2 separate regions of the Homo sapiens genome follow, and region 1 is linked to region 2. A link means that fine-mapping ties the variant in region 2 to the expression of a gene that starts in the linked region. Tissue or cell type: whole blood. Region 2 holds a variant in brackets; the other region holds the start of a gene. All regions are shown on one strand. Distances are between the middles of the regions.

The links. PIP is the estimated chance that this variant, and not a neighbour inherited with it, causes the effect.
Region 1: it holds the start of MXD4, and the variant in region 2 is fine-mapped to the expression of MXD4 in whole blood (TOPMed, PIP above 0.99).

What each region holds. Positions count from the first base shown.
Region 1 is chr4:2,259,062-2,264,589 of GRCh38, forward strand. It overlaps MXD4 (MAX dimerization protein 4), which reads right to left and starts at 3,048. Exons shown (of 6, transcript NM_006454.3): 1 at 2,856-3,048; 2 at 2,664-2,763. The coding sequence starts at 2,919. RefSeq lists enhancers at 1,575-2,167, 3,399-4,060, 4,061-4,720 and silencers at 2,268-2,327, 2,338-2,727, 2,818-2,877, 2,928-3,767.
Region 2 is chr4:2,279,580-2,285,849 of GRCh38, forward strand. All of the region lies in intron 8 of ZFYVE28 (zinc finger FYVE-type containing 28), which reads right to left. Among named protein-coding and RNA genes, the nearest start is that of MXD4, 21 kb to the left of the region's middle. RefSeq lists enhancers at 977-1,478, 1,479-1,978, 2,747-2,806, 5,887-6,270. The variant C/T (reference allele first, on the strand shown) is at 2,604.

The DNA.
Region 1 (5,528 bases), 21 kb before region 2:
ACAGGTGGGCAGAGAGCTCAGACTGCCTCGGGGCACCTCCAGACCCAGCCCTGAGGCCTCTCCCTGCCCTCAGGACCTGGCTCCTTCCTGAAGCTTCTTGCTGACCACTGCCTGCTTCAGGAACTTGGGATCTGGCGTCTCCTGTCCCAACCACTCAGGCCAAGGGCCTGCCCCTCCCACCCGCTGCACCAACAGGCCCTGGGCCTCCTTGTGTAGCCTCAGCAGAGCCTCCAGACCCAGGTCTCAGGGTCCGGGAGGGCCTGTTGGTCACATGGGCTGGACAAGGAGCCTCCGAATCACTGCCAGGGCCAGCCAGGGCCGACCAGGGCCAGCAGAGGCCACAGCCATATGCTCCTCACTGGCCTCACAGAGATAGGCCCCTACGCCAGCGTTTCTGCTTCCCCAGAATAGGCAGGCCGCAGGAATGAGCCGTACTCTCTGTCCTCAGCCCAAACTGCAGCCTGGCCACGTGGGTCTGTAGTCAAGAGGGAGGTCGGGGTCAGCAGGTGCCCTTCAACATAAAAGCCTACCTGCCTACCCCTTGAAGGGTGGCACGGGGCTGGACCCCACCCTGGAGGCAGGGGGCCCTCCTCCAGCAGCCAGGGCCCCTCTTGCAGCTCCTCCTGGGCCCAGAGACCCTTGGGGTCCATCGAGGGGGATGTTTGCAACATGGGTCCCAGGAGCACTCTATCCCTCAGGAGAGGTGGGACCTGTCCCCGCTGAGGCCAGGCCAAGTGCGTTCCCAGCATTCCCGTGACCCCAGGAGACAAGCACACTTCCCACAGAATGGACCCCCCTGCAGGCTGGCCCCAGTGCTCTGCCGCCTCCCTCAACCCTGACACTGTCCTCCGGCCCCACTCCCTACCCTTGCCCCAGCCTCACTGTGCCATGTCCCCTCCCTCACCTTGGCAGAGCATGGAAGCCTCACAGGTGGGGACAAGTCAGGGGCTCAGAGATCCTCTGGCCCCCTGCTCCGCCCAGCTACTTGTCTGGGCTGGCTGAGGAAACCTCCAGGGCAGTGCTGCCCACCCGAGGAAGGGGCCAAGCCGCCAGCCCTGGGCTGCCTCAGGCCCCGGGGGAGCGGGGCTCGGCCCAGAGGAGCCAGGGGAGATGCACCAGAGTTGGGGAGCCCTCTGTCTCCCTCACCAGTGCCCCCATGGTCTCTGTCCCAGCAGAATGTGGACAGCTGGGACCCCATCTCAGGAACAGGCGTCATCAGAGATGGGTGAGTGGCAGGCAAGTAACCAAACCTCTCCTTGCCTCAGTTTCCTTGGCCATAGAGATAAAAATCACATCACCTCTCTGAGCCTGGGGTGAAGATGAACTGGCTGCATGTGTGAAACGCTCAGCATAGAGGCAGTGTTCGGGCAGCCTTGGCCAGGACGCTGGTTGTCAGCTTTGGATTCTCCATGCTGGGGGAGCCCCAGCTCACGCCCCAGAGTTCTCCACGGGTCAGGGACTTGGTTTGGAGAGAAGCGGCAGCGGGGGCCGGGCTTGCTCACTGAGGAGGCCTGAGGCAATGGTTCCCTCGTCACACTCCTGTCCTTCCCCAAACTGTCCCCAGTAGGGGACCAGGGGCTGGGACTCAGGGACGGGTCCCAGCCAGGGCAGCTGGAGACTCAACCAATTCCTCGCCTGGCTCAGGATGCCACAGAAATGGGTCCCTACACCAGCCTTTCGGATTCCCTAGAACAGGTGGACCACAGGAATGAGCCATGCCCTGGGGCTCTGAAGCCCCCTACAAACGCAGCTCCCAGCCTGCTCACACAAAAGGGCTGGGCCAAGGTGGGCCCAGACAGGACCAGGTGTGCTATGGTCCTCACAGCAGCCAGGAGGGTGGAAATCCCCGGGGAGCCCCGGCCCAGGGTCCCCACTCCCCACGCGGGGGACCTGTACGCACCCCAGCTTCAGGGCTTCTGCTGCCTGAACACGAGGTCAAGGTATGGAGGGCGCAGCTGGCACCCGTAGTAACGACTTCATGGGGCCCCTGCCCTGCAGCCTGCCCCCTCCTCCCGCCCCCTTAAAAGGCCTCTGTCTTAAAAAAGAGGACCCCCATACTGGTGGCTGGAGTTTCGCTGTGTCAGGAGGCTGGGCAGAAGCGGTGGGCACCCTGGGAGGAGTGAGGGCCCAGGACAGCGCCTCCACTCGCTTCTCTGTCTAGGCTCCTGGGGGCGGGGGAAGGTGGCCGAGCAGCAGAGTTCGGCTGGCAGAGCCAGTCGAAAGGAGGCCGCCCACCCACCCGCGGAGAGAAGGGGTTAGGGCCGGCAGCCCCCGCAGACCCTGGCTGAGCCTGTTTCCCCAGACCCACGGGGCACCGGCCAGCGCCCGCTGACAACTTTTCTACCGCCTGGAAAAGTCCAGAACAACTCGGGGGCGGGGAGCGGGCGCGGGAGCGGACCCCGGCGGCGGGCGCTGTACGCGTGGCACTGTTTACGCGAGCGGCCCGGGAGGCGCGGCCGCGGGAAGATGGCGACGGCGAGGGCGGGGCCGGCCGGGCGGGGCTGCGGCCGCGGCCTGCGCGCCTCCTCCTCCAGGCTGGCCGCCGGGGCGCGCGGCGGCGGCGCTGAGGGCCGCGGGCCGGGAATCGGGGCCCGGAGAGCACGCTCCGGGCGGGGGCGGGGGTTCGGACCGGGCCGGGCGGGGTCGGGAGCGGGGGGCGGTACCTGTTGTTCGGGGCCTTGCGCACCAGGCCGGCCGCCTTTGTTTTCTCCCTGGCGAAGTCGCCGTCGAAGGGCAGCACCGAGGCGTAGCCGTGCTCGGCCTCTGCGGACACACGGCGCGGTCAGCGGCCCCCGCCCGGCACGGCCCCGCCGCCCGCCCACCGCCGCGGGCGCACAATGGGGTGCGAGCGCTACCTCGATCCCTGCGCTCCAGGTACTCGGCCGCCTCCAGCAGGATCAGCAGGGAGTTCAGCTCCATCCTCCCGCCCGCGCCCGTCCGCCCCGGGACGGCGGCGGCCGCTGCCCGGCCCGCTCCGGCCGGCTCCGCTCGCCGCCCACCCCGCGCGCCCGGCCGCCGCACTTCCAGACTCCGCGGACTCCGGCGCTCGGCCGCCACCCTCCGCCTCAGGCCCTCAAATTGACACATAAGGGAGAGCGGCGGCCCGCAGAGCCAATGGGAGGCGGCGTTCGCGCCCCGGGGGCGGGCGCCGGGCCGGGCTGGGGCCAATGGGGACGGGTCGAGCGCCTCGGGCCGGGCCGAGAATGTTGACAGATGCAGAGCTGGGCTGGGATAGGCCGGCCGCGCTAGTAACAATTTAGAAGCCCGAGCTTAGCAACAGCACGTGGTGGCCCGGCCCCCGCGCTAGCTGACTGGCGGCCGCCGTGCATGTTAAGTAGGCGCCGCGCGCCGATTGGCCAGAGCGGCCTATGTAAAACAGGCACTGCGAGCCAATGGCCGGTGGCGGGGCGCGCGGCCAATGAGGGCGCCGCAGCCGGACGCGTTGCCGAGAGGAAGCGCAGCGCGCGGGGACCGCCCGCCGTCCTGGGGGCCCGTTAGGACGCAGGAGCGTCTCCGCTACGAGAGCGAAGCAGGGCGCTCCGGGGCGTGCGCCGGGCCGGGCCGGGCCGCCGGGTCTGAGCGCGACGAAAGCAGTGGCTGCGTGGGGGGACGAGGCCTCGCGCTCTGCCCGGGGGTCTTGCGTGGGGCCGTGAACGACTCCCCTCCCCGCCGGGCGCAGAGTGGCCCCGGGAAGGGCCGGGACCTCGGAGAGGGACGCAGACGCTCTGATCCTAAGAGCCAGGCGTCTCTGAGGGTGTCAGTGGGGAAACAGGCCCAGAGCGGGCGGGCTCCTCAGATCGCCCAGTGGACGCCGGAGCTGAGGGAGGGCCCAGGTCTGGGGAAGGGACACAGACGTGCGGCCAGAGTCGAGAGGCTCCCCGGAGTGGGGGGCTGCATGCTCTGTGTCTGGCCTGAGGGGCAGGGACGTTCCTAGAGGCAGGCGCTGGCCACCTCTGGCCGAGGACGCCCTAAGTGGGGACGGGAGTGAACCCTTCATCAAATCCCAGCTGGCGGGTCTCCCTAGTGACCCCTGACCCTAAGGCTGGCCCAGACTGGCCTCGGCACCCCCCACCCTCTCGCAGATTTTTTTTTTTTTTTTTTTTGAGACGGCTCTGTTGCCCAGGCTGGAATGCAGTGGCGTGATGTCAGTTCACTGCAACCTCCGCCTCCCGGGTTCAAGCGATTCCCCTGCCTCAGCCTCCCAAGTAGCTGGGACTACAGGCGCGTGCCACCACGCCCAGCTAATTTTTGTATTTTTAGTAGAGATGGGGTTTCACCATGGATGGTCTGGATCTCCTGACCTCGTGATCCGCCCGCCTCGGCCTCCCAAAGTTCTGGGATTACAGGTGTGAGCCACCTCGCCCGACCCATCTCACTGATTTGATTTTTGAGGTTGGTGGCCTGGATGTGCCAAGGGCCAGGCCCCGCAGGCTGGAGAGTGTGGAGGCATAAGGTGGCTGGACCCCTCCAGAAGTACTCAGTGGGACACAGGGGCTGCTGCTGGCAATGAAACTGAACAAAAAATGCAAAACCTCAGCACCAGGACTCCTGTGAAAGCTTCGTGTGCATCTCCCTGTGTTTTGCATGCCCGGCTTGCAGATCAGGACATGGGACTAGACGCTCAGGGATTTGCTGGGGTCTCCCAGAAATCTCAGCAGAATGGAGATTAGTGCTGCCACACACGGCTCAGGGCTATAGGAATGCAGAGGCCAGAGCCTCCTGGCCTGGCTGGTCCTGCTGGGTGTAAGCCTGTGGTGTGGGCTTCAGAATAATGTGTGTTCCCACAGAGCCCTGCAGGACCCAGTGGGGAACTCGGACACTGCTATGAGACAGCCCTGCATGGACATTGAGACAACCCCCTTGATGTTAGCAGGGGCCCTTCCTGTTCCCGCCCCACAGTGACGCCAGGGCCCAAGGCAGAGCCCCTCACAAGAACTCAGCACTGAGGCCCTCCAGGTTTGTCTGCATGGCTGCTCAGAGCTGTGCATGGTAAAGAAAGGTGCCCAAGTCTGGGGAGGAGCAGGGTGTGTTTGGGCTCTGGGGACCCAGCTCTCCACTTGGGGATGAGCATTTTGCAAAGTTGCCCCATCCCTGCTTTGGCCACTGGGTGAGTTGCTGCCGACAGCTAAAGCGGACACCTGGCCTAGTACAAGTGCACCTGCTGGGCATAGTGCACGCCCCCTTCCTGCCATGGGCCAAGAGATTTGTTCTGTGTGGCAGTGGGCAGCACAGGTGCGCAGGTGTGTCTATGGGGAGGCACCTGCATGCTACCCCAGTCTAAGAGATTTTTAGCCTCAATTTAGGCCATTTAAGGACTCACCCTCACCTCCCCACCACACTGAGGACCAAGCACTTCCCTGGTGTCCCTGGGCTCAAACCTTGCCTGGTAGTGTGGGCACCACTGCCTGGGGGAGCAGGAAGGAGTTGGGGTTGGGAGGAGAAGCTGCAGGAGGCGATGGATGACTGAGGGCTGAGCTGCAGCTAGGGAGGGAGGTACTGGAGGCATCGGCCAGCAATGGCAGGAGGAG
Region 2 (6,270 bases):
CCATCCTGGCTAACACGATGAAACCCTGTCTCTACTAAAAATACAAAAAAAATTAGCCAGGCATGGTGGCGGGCGCCTGTAGTCCCAGCTACTCAGGAGGCTGAGGCAGAAGAATGGCGTGAACCCGGGAGGCGGAGCTTGCAGTGAGCCGAGATCATGCCACTGCACTCCAGCCTGACAACAGAGTGAGACTCCTTCAAAAAAAAAAAAAAAAATCACATACTGTATGATTGATTCCATTCACATGAAATGTCTAGAACAGGCGAAACCCATAGGGGCAGAAAGCAGAACCGTGGTCGCAACAGCTGAAGGGGGAGGGGAACATGGTGACTGCTGATGGGGAGGGTTTTTCTTTATGGGGTGATGAAAATGTTTTGAATTAGACAGTGATATTGGCTGTACAGCCTCATGGATGTACCACAAATTACTGAGCTGTACATCTCACAAACAACAGAAGAGAATGTTTTTCTTGTAATCGCCCAGCAAACTCATATGCAAGAAATAGCTTATAAGCTAAATGTCCATCAACAGTGGGTTGACTCAATACATTAGGTCATATCCCTATGGTGAAACAATCTCCAGAAGGATGGTCCACTGGAAATGTTAAAATATGAAATGAAAAATGTAGCATTTAAAAAATTAGAGGCGAGGTGTAGTGGCTCATGCCTGTGATCCCAACAATTATTGGGAGGCTGAGGCGGGAGGATCACTTGAGGCCAGGAGTTCAAGACCAGTCTGGGCAACATGACAAGACCTCTGTCTCTACAAAAAATCCAAAATTAGCCAGGCATGATGGTGTGCACCTGTAGTACCAGCTACTCTGGAAGCTGAGGTGGGAGGATCGCTTGAGCCCAGGAGTTCAAGGGTACAGTGAGCTGTGATCACACCACTGCACTCCACTCCAGCCTGGGCAACGAGCAAGACCCTGTCTCTTAAAATAAATAAAATAATAAAAATAAAAATTAGAGATGTCATATGTACATAAATGACACACTGGGGAAGATACTCAAGGTAAGGCATTAATCTTACACTTACTTGAGTAGTAAGATTACAGGTAAATTATCATTTTCTAAAGTCTCATCGCGGATCAAGTATTGCTTTTGTGATCAGAAGAGATGCCATTTCAAGAAGAAAGGAAAGTGCCTGCTGGCAGCAGATGGCACCCTCGGGCCCTGCCTGTGGCGAGGAACTTGTTTCCCTGTGAAAGGAGAAGCCCATGGGAAGTATTCAGCCCCGCAGCTCCAGCCCCTTGGACCAACACCCTGAAGCTGGGAAGGCTATCTGGACAAGCATCCTGCTACTGAAGCACCCCTGGAGATGAGAAATCAGGGGAAGGGCCCTGACGTTCAACAGAGAGTTGAGTGTGGCATAAGAACAATGGCTTCTACCAGCAGGTTGAGACCGAGGCCAGGCCAAGGCTGGCCGATTGCCCACGGGTAGGTCAGATCGCTGATGGCCATCTCAACCCCAGACACCCTTCACTTGCCACAGGAAAGGCCCTCTCCTGCCTCCCTGCCCTGGTTGGCTGGAAGCTCTGGTGGCGTGGGAGGGGGAATGGGTGGACAGAGAGAGCCAAGGGGCCCCATACAGAGATGTCACAGGTAGAAAAACCAATGAGGTACTGCCCAAGGGAACCGGCTGGGCTTGGAAGGGCCAAAGGGAACAAGAGAGCAGAGTGGGGAGGTAGAACCCAGGATTTCACCGAGAGCATGAGCCTGGGTCCTTCTGGGTCAGCCATTCCTGGGGCCATGTGGATGGGTGTCTTCCTTTGCTTCCTGCTGCTATAACAGAGTACCACAGTCTAGGTAATTTATAATGAACAGACATGTTTCTGGCTCACAGTCTGGAGGCTGGGAAGCCCAAGGTGGAGGGGCCCCATCTGACTAGGGCCTTCTTGCTATGTCACCACATGGAGGAAGGCATCGCATGGGCAAGAGAGAGGGGAAGGGGGCCATGCTCACCCTTTATAAGGACCCCACTGCAGCAATAACAAACCCACTCTTGCAATAACATCAATCCGCTCAGGAGGGCAAAGCCTTCATGACCTCATCACCTCTTTAAGGTCCCCCCTCTCAACGCTGTTGCAGTGGGGATTAAGTTACCAACACATGAACTTTGGGGCACACATTCAAACCACAGCAGGGGGCACTGTTTGGATGCCAGTGGCCCAGGAACACTGCCTTTGGAAGGGTGTTTATCCCCTGTGGCCAGTTGCTGAACAGACAGGGTAGGGCCATGAGGAGGACCTCAGGGGTAGATCAGACACTATGTGTCCCCCAAAAGCCAAGTCTAGTGGGGGAGCCACACACATTAACAATACAGAGCCGAGAAGTGAGCTGGTGCCCAGCGGGTCCATCCCTGTGGTGAGGAAGGGAACAGTACGGGTGAGATACAGCCACAGCTCAAGTCACAGAAAGACAGGGAGCCATGAGAAGCAGAGGCTAGAAGAGTGAAGGGCACCTGCCCTGCCAACAGCTTCCTGTGTCTCACCACAGAGTCTGAACCCTTGTCACTGATGTTCTCAAGTCAGTGGATCAACGTCACTTCAGCATGTTCACCCGGATGTCTAAAAGTCCAGCCACCTTCTGCAGCTGCCAGACACT[C/T]CCGCACCGGCTGCCTGAATGTTGCTTCCTGCCACTCTCTTACAGAAGGCAGCAAAAACTCCCTGCAACAGCCCCACTTCGGTTTGAACTACTATGAAATGTCATTCTCTGGTAAAGAAAGGCAGTGCAATTCTAAACAGTCACATCAATACCAAAGGCTGCCCAGCCTGTGTCTTCAGCTGTGTCACAGTTAGGCCACAGGACAGTGGCCAGGTTTCCAAAGTGCTCCTCTTGAACAGCACACAGGGGGGATAAATGGCTGATGTCATCATTGGGGTGGGAAAAGTGGTGAGGGGAGCCTCTGAGATGTTGGGAACATGGAACACGTCTGAATTCAGCAATTGGATAGAGCAGAAGAGGGAAGTTTACTGAACTTATAATTTTAATTCCAATTACTATGGAAAAGAAAGACCATAGCAAAGCCCAAATGAATCTGATGCAGCAAATTTAGCAAGTGAGTATGCAAACAGAAAGACAGGACTTTGCCACCTTGAACCTCTAGGAGTCTGTGAAAGAAGAGAATGCCAACTTTGGAAAGACTAACAGCATCACAGTATGTTTCTCATTATGACATCAGATACATTAATTTTTGAACTCTTGAAACCATTTGCAAAGGCTAATGAAGAGAAAAACAGCCTGTAGTCCCAGCTACGGGGAGGCTGAGGCAGGAGGATCCCCTGAGCCCAGGAATTCAAGGCTAGCCTGCGTAACATAGCAAGACTCTATCTCTAAAGAAAAATAAATAAAAAACAAAAACAAAGAACATCAAGAGTGACTGGTAGGCTCCAGAGGCAAGGTTTAATTGTGCTTGGATGTGGGAAAATTAGCAGCTCGGGCATTTGTACAACCACATACCAATTCTAATGAGCCACCTTGGGCCCTGACGCAAATGGTGGGCTGGCTGCTTCTTGTAAAAGTCATCCATCCATCCACCCACCCACCCACTCATCCATTTACCCATCCATATATTTACCTATCCATCCATCCACCCATCCATTCATCTACCCATCCACCAATCCATGCATCCATCCATCCATCCACCCAACTAATCATCCATCCATCTATCCACCCATGTACCCACCTGTCCACCCACCAATCCGTCTACCCATCATCCAATCTTCCACTCATCCACCCACCCATCTACCCACCCACCCATCCATTTATCCATCCATCCATCCATCCATCCATCCAATCATCCATCCACCCATCCACTCATGCACCCACCCATCCACCCACCCATCCATCCACCCATCCACTCATCCATCCACCCATCCACCCACCCATCCATCCACCCATCCACTCATTCATTTGCCATCCATCCATCCACCCACCCATCCATCTAATCATCAGTCCATCCATCCATCCATCCATCCAACCATCCAACCGTCCATCCACCCATCCATCCATCCATCCATCCATCCATCCACCTGCCCTACAAACATGCACTAAGCACCAACTATGATCCAGGAATTGCACAGTTCAGCCCTAAGGAGCTCACGATTTGATGGCAGAGATCAATAGGTGAACAGTTAATTATCACACACGGAAAGTGTAACAGAGGAACCATCAAGGGTGTTGTTGTGGGAGGTCAGAGGGGAGACTCCTCACTCAGGCTGGAGAGAGGTCTGGAGTGCCAGGGAGGGTTCCTGGAAGGCGCAGCATGAGGACAGCTTGAATGAAAGCCAAGAGGTGGGAAGCAGCCGACAGACTGTAGGGAACCCCCTGGTGATGCTGGGAGAGACCAGGCAGAGGTTGAGGCTAAGCAGAGGCCCACTGGGAGGGCTGGACAGTTCGGACCTTGGCCTGTTGGTCAGTGCCCCCAGAGGATGCTCCACAGAACGCAATTCCCTGTAGGCTACACTTGAGGGAAAAAGAGTTTGAGGAACAGAGCACAGGTGCTCTCTTTCTTGGAGCCCCCGCATCCACATTCATTGACATCAATCGACAGCTCAGGCTCGCTGTGGAGCATGTGGCCACACAAGACCGGATTCACGTGTGTACGCAGTGGAGGGAGTCAGCCAGCCTGCAAATGAGTGTTCAGAAATGAGACCATTTCCCACCGTGATAAAGGCCGTGTCGCCCAGGCTGGAGCACAGTGGCGTGACCACGGCTCACTGTAACCTCAAGCTCCGGGCCCCACATGATCCTCCAACCTCAGCCTCCCAAAGTACTGAGATTACAGGTATAGGCCACCGTGGCTCGCCTGGGGCTTTGAAGACCATGATGGGGAGGAGGAGAGCGCGACGGGGCACAGTGGTGGACAACCCAGCTTTCAGAGGAAGCATTTTGGTGGAGATTTCACCAATGAGATGGAGAGGACCTCAGCAGCAGGAGCCCAAGATGGGCTGAGCACAGCCTCCCAGGAGTCAGAGGTGAAGGCCTTGCTGCCCGGTCACACTGGCCACCAGGTCAGGACAATCCCACAGTCCTGGACGCCTCTGGTTCCCCAGAGGAGTTGGAGCCTGCTGGGACATCTTGTCTCCTCTTATGGTGCCTCACAAAGACCTCCGGGGGGCTGAGTCTGCAATGCACAAGGCCTGGCTTTGACTTCCTCTGTGAGTCCTGGGATCAGGGAGGGCTGAGACACCCTTCCAGGAATCGGCTCTGGAACTGTCTGCCAAAGTCGTACCAGCTCAGCTCAGGCCACAGCGGAAACCAACAGCAGGTAGACCCCTCTTCTTGGCAGGTGCCCTGAGTCTAGTACGGCAAGGATTTAGCAGGGAGGCGCGAGTGTGCTGTTTGGGGTTGAATTGGGGCCCCCCAGCAAGCTCATATGTTGAAGTCCTAACCCCCAATACCTTAAAATGTGACCTTATTTGGAAACAGGGTCATTGCAGGTGTAACTAAAGTTAAGATAAGGTCATCCAGGAGTAGGGTGGGCCCTAAGCCAACTTGACTGGTGTCCTTACCCATGGGGAAAATTTGGGTGCAGGCCCACACCTGGGCAGAACCCCACGTGGACTGAAGGCAGGGACTGGAGTGATGCTTCTGTAAGCCAAGTACACACCCAAGATGGCCAGCAAGCCCCCTGAGGCTGGAAGGCAGCCCAGGACAGATTCTCCCTTATGGCCCCAGAAGGAACCAGCCCTGCTGACACCTTGATCTCGACTTCTGGCCTCCAGAACTGCAAGACAACAAACGCCCTCGTGATTTAACCCACCTTGCCGCGGTGCTTCGTCACAGCAGCCGGGGGAACTAACACGTGGCGCTGACCCCGCCATGGCGCCGGCCCCACTGTGGCTGCCAGGCCTTTGCACTGGTGTCAGCCCTAATAACTTCCAGCAGCAAGTAAGCTGATTTCTTCTGAGCAGGCTGGAATCTCCCTGCTTCCTTTCCTCTCCAGCCCCTTGCAAAGTCATTCTCTCTCGTGGTTTTCCTGTGTGACTCGCCTTCCCAAGGAAGTCAGTCTTCTCACCACAGCTCCTGACTGCAGCTCCACAGCCCCTGGGTTGAGCACAGGCTGGGACTGAGAAGGAGACGAATGCTGTTCCGTGACCAGGGCATCCTCAGAAGGGCCGCTGCCACTGTGGGCCAGAATGAAGGACAGAACCGAGGGACAGGAAGGAGGGCTGGGCCGGTCCAGGAGGGCAGGCGCCCATCCCAGAAACAGCTCAGCGGGAGGGAGGGAAATTGAAGCCGGGATCTCAGGGCTGCCCCGCCCTGGTCA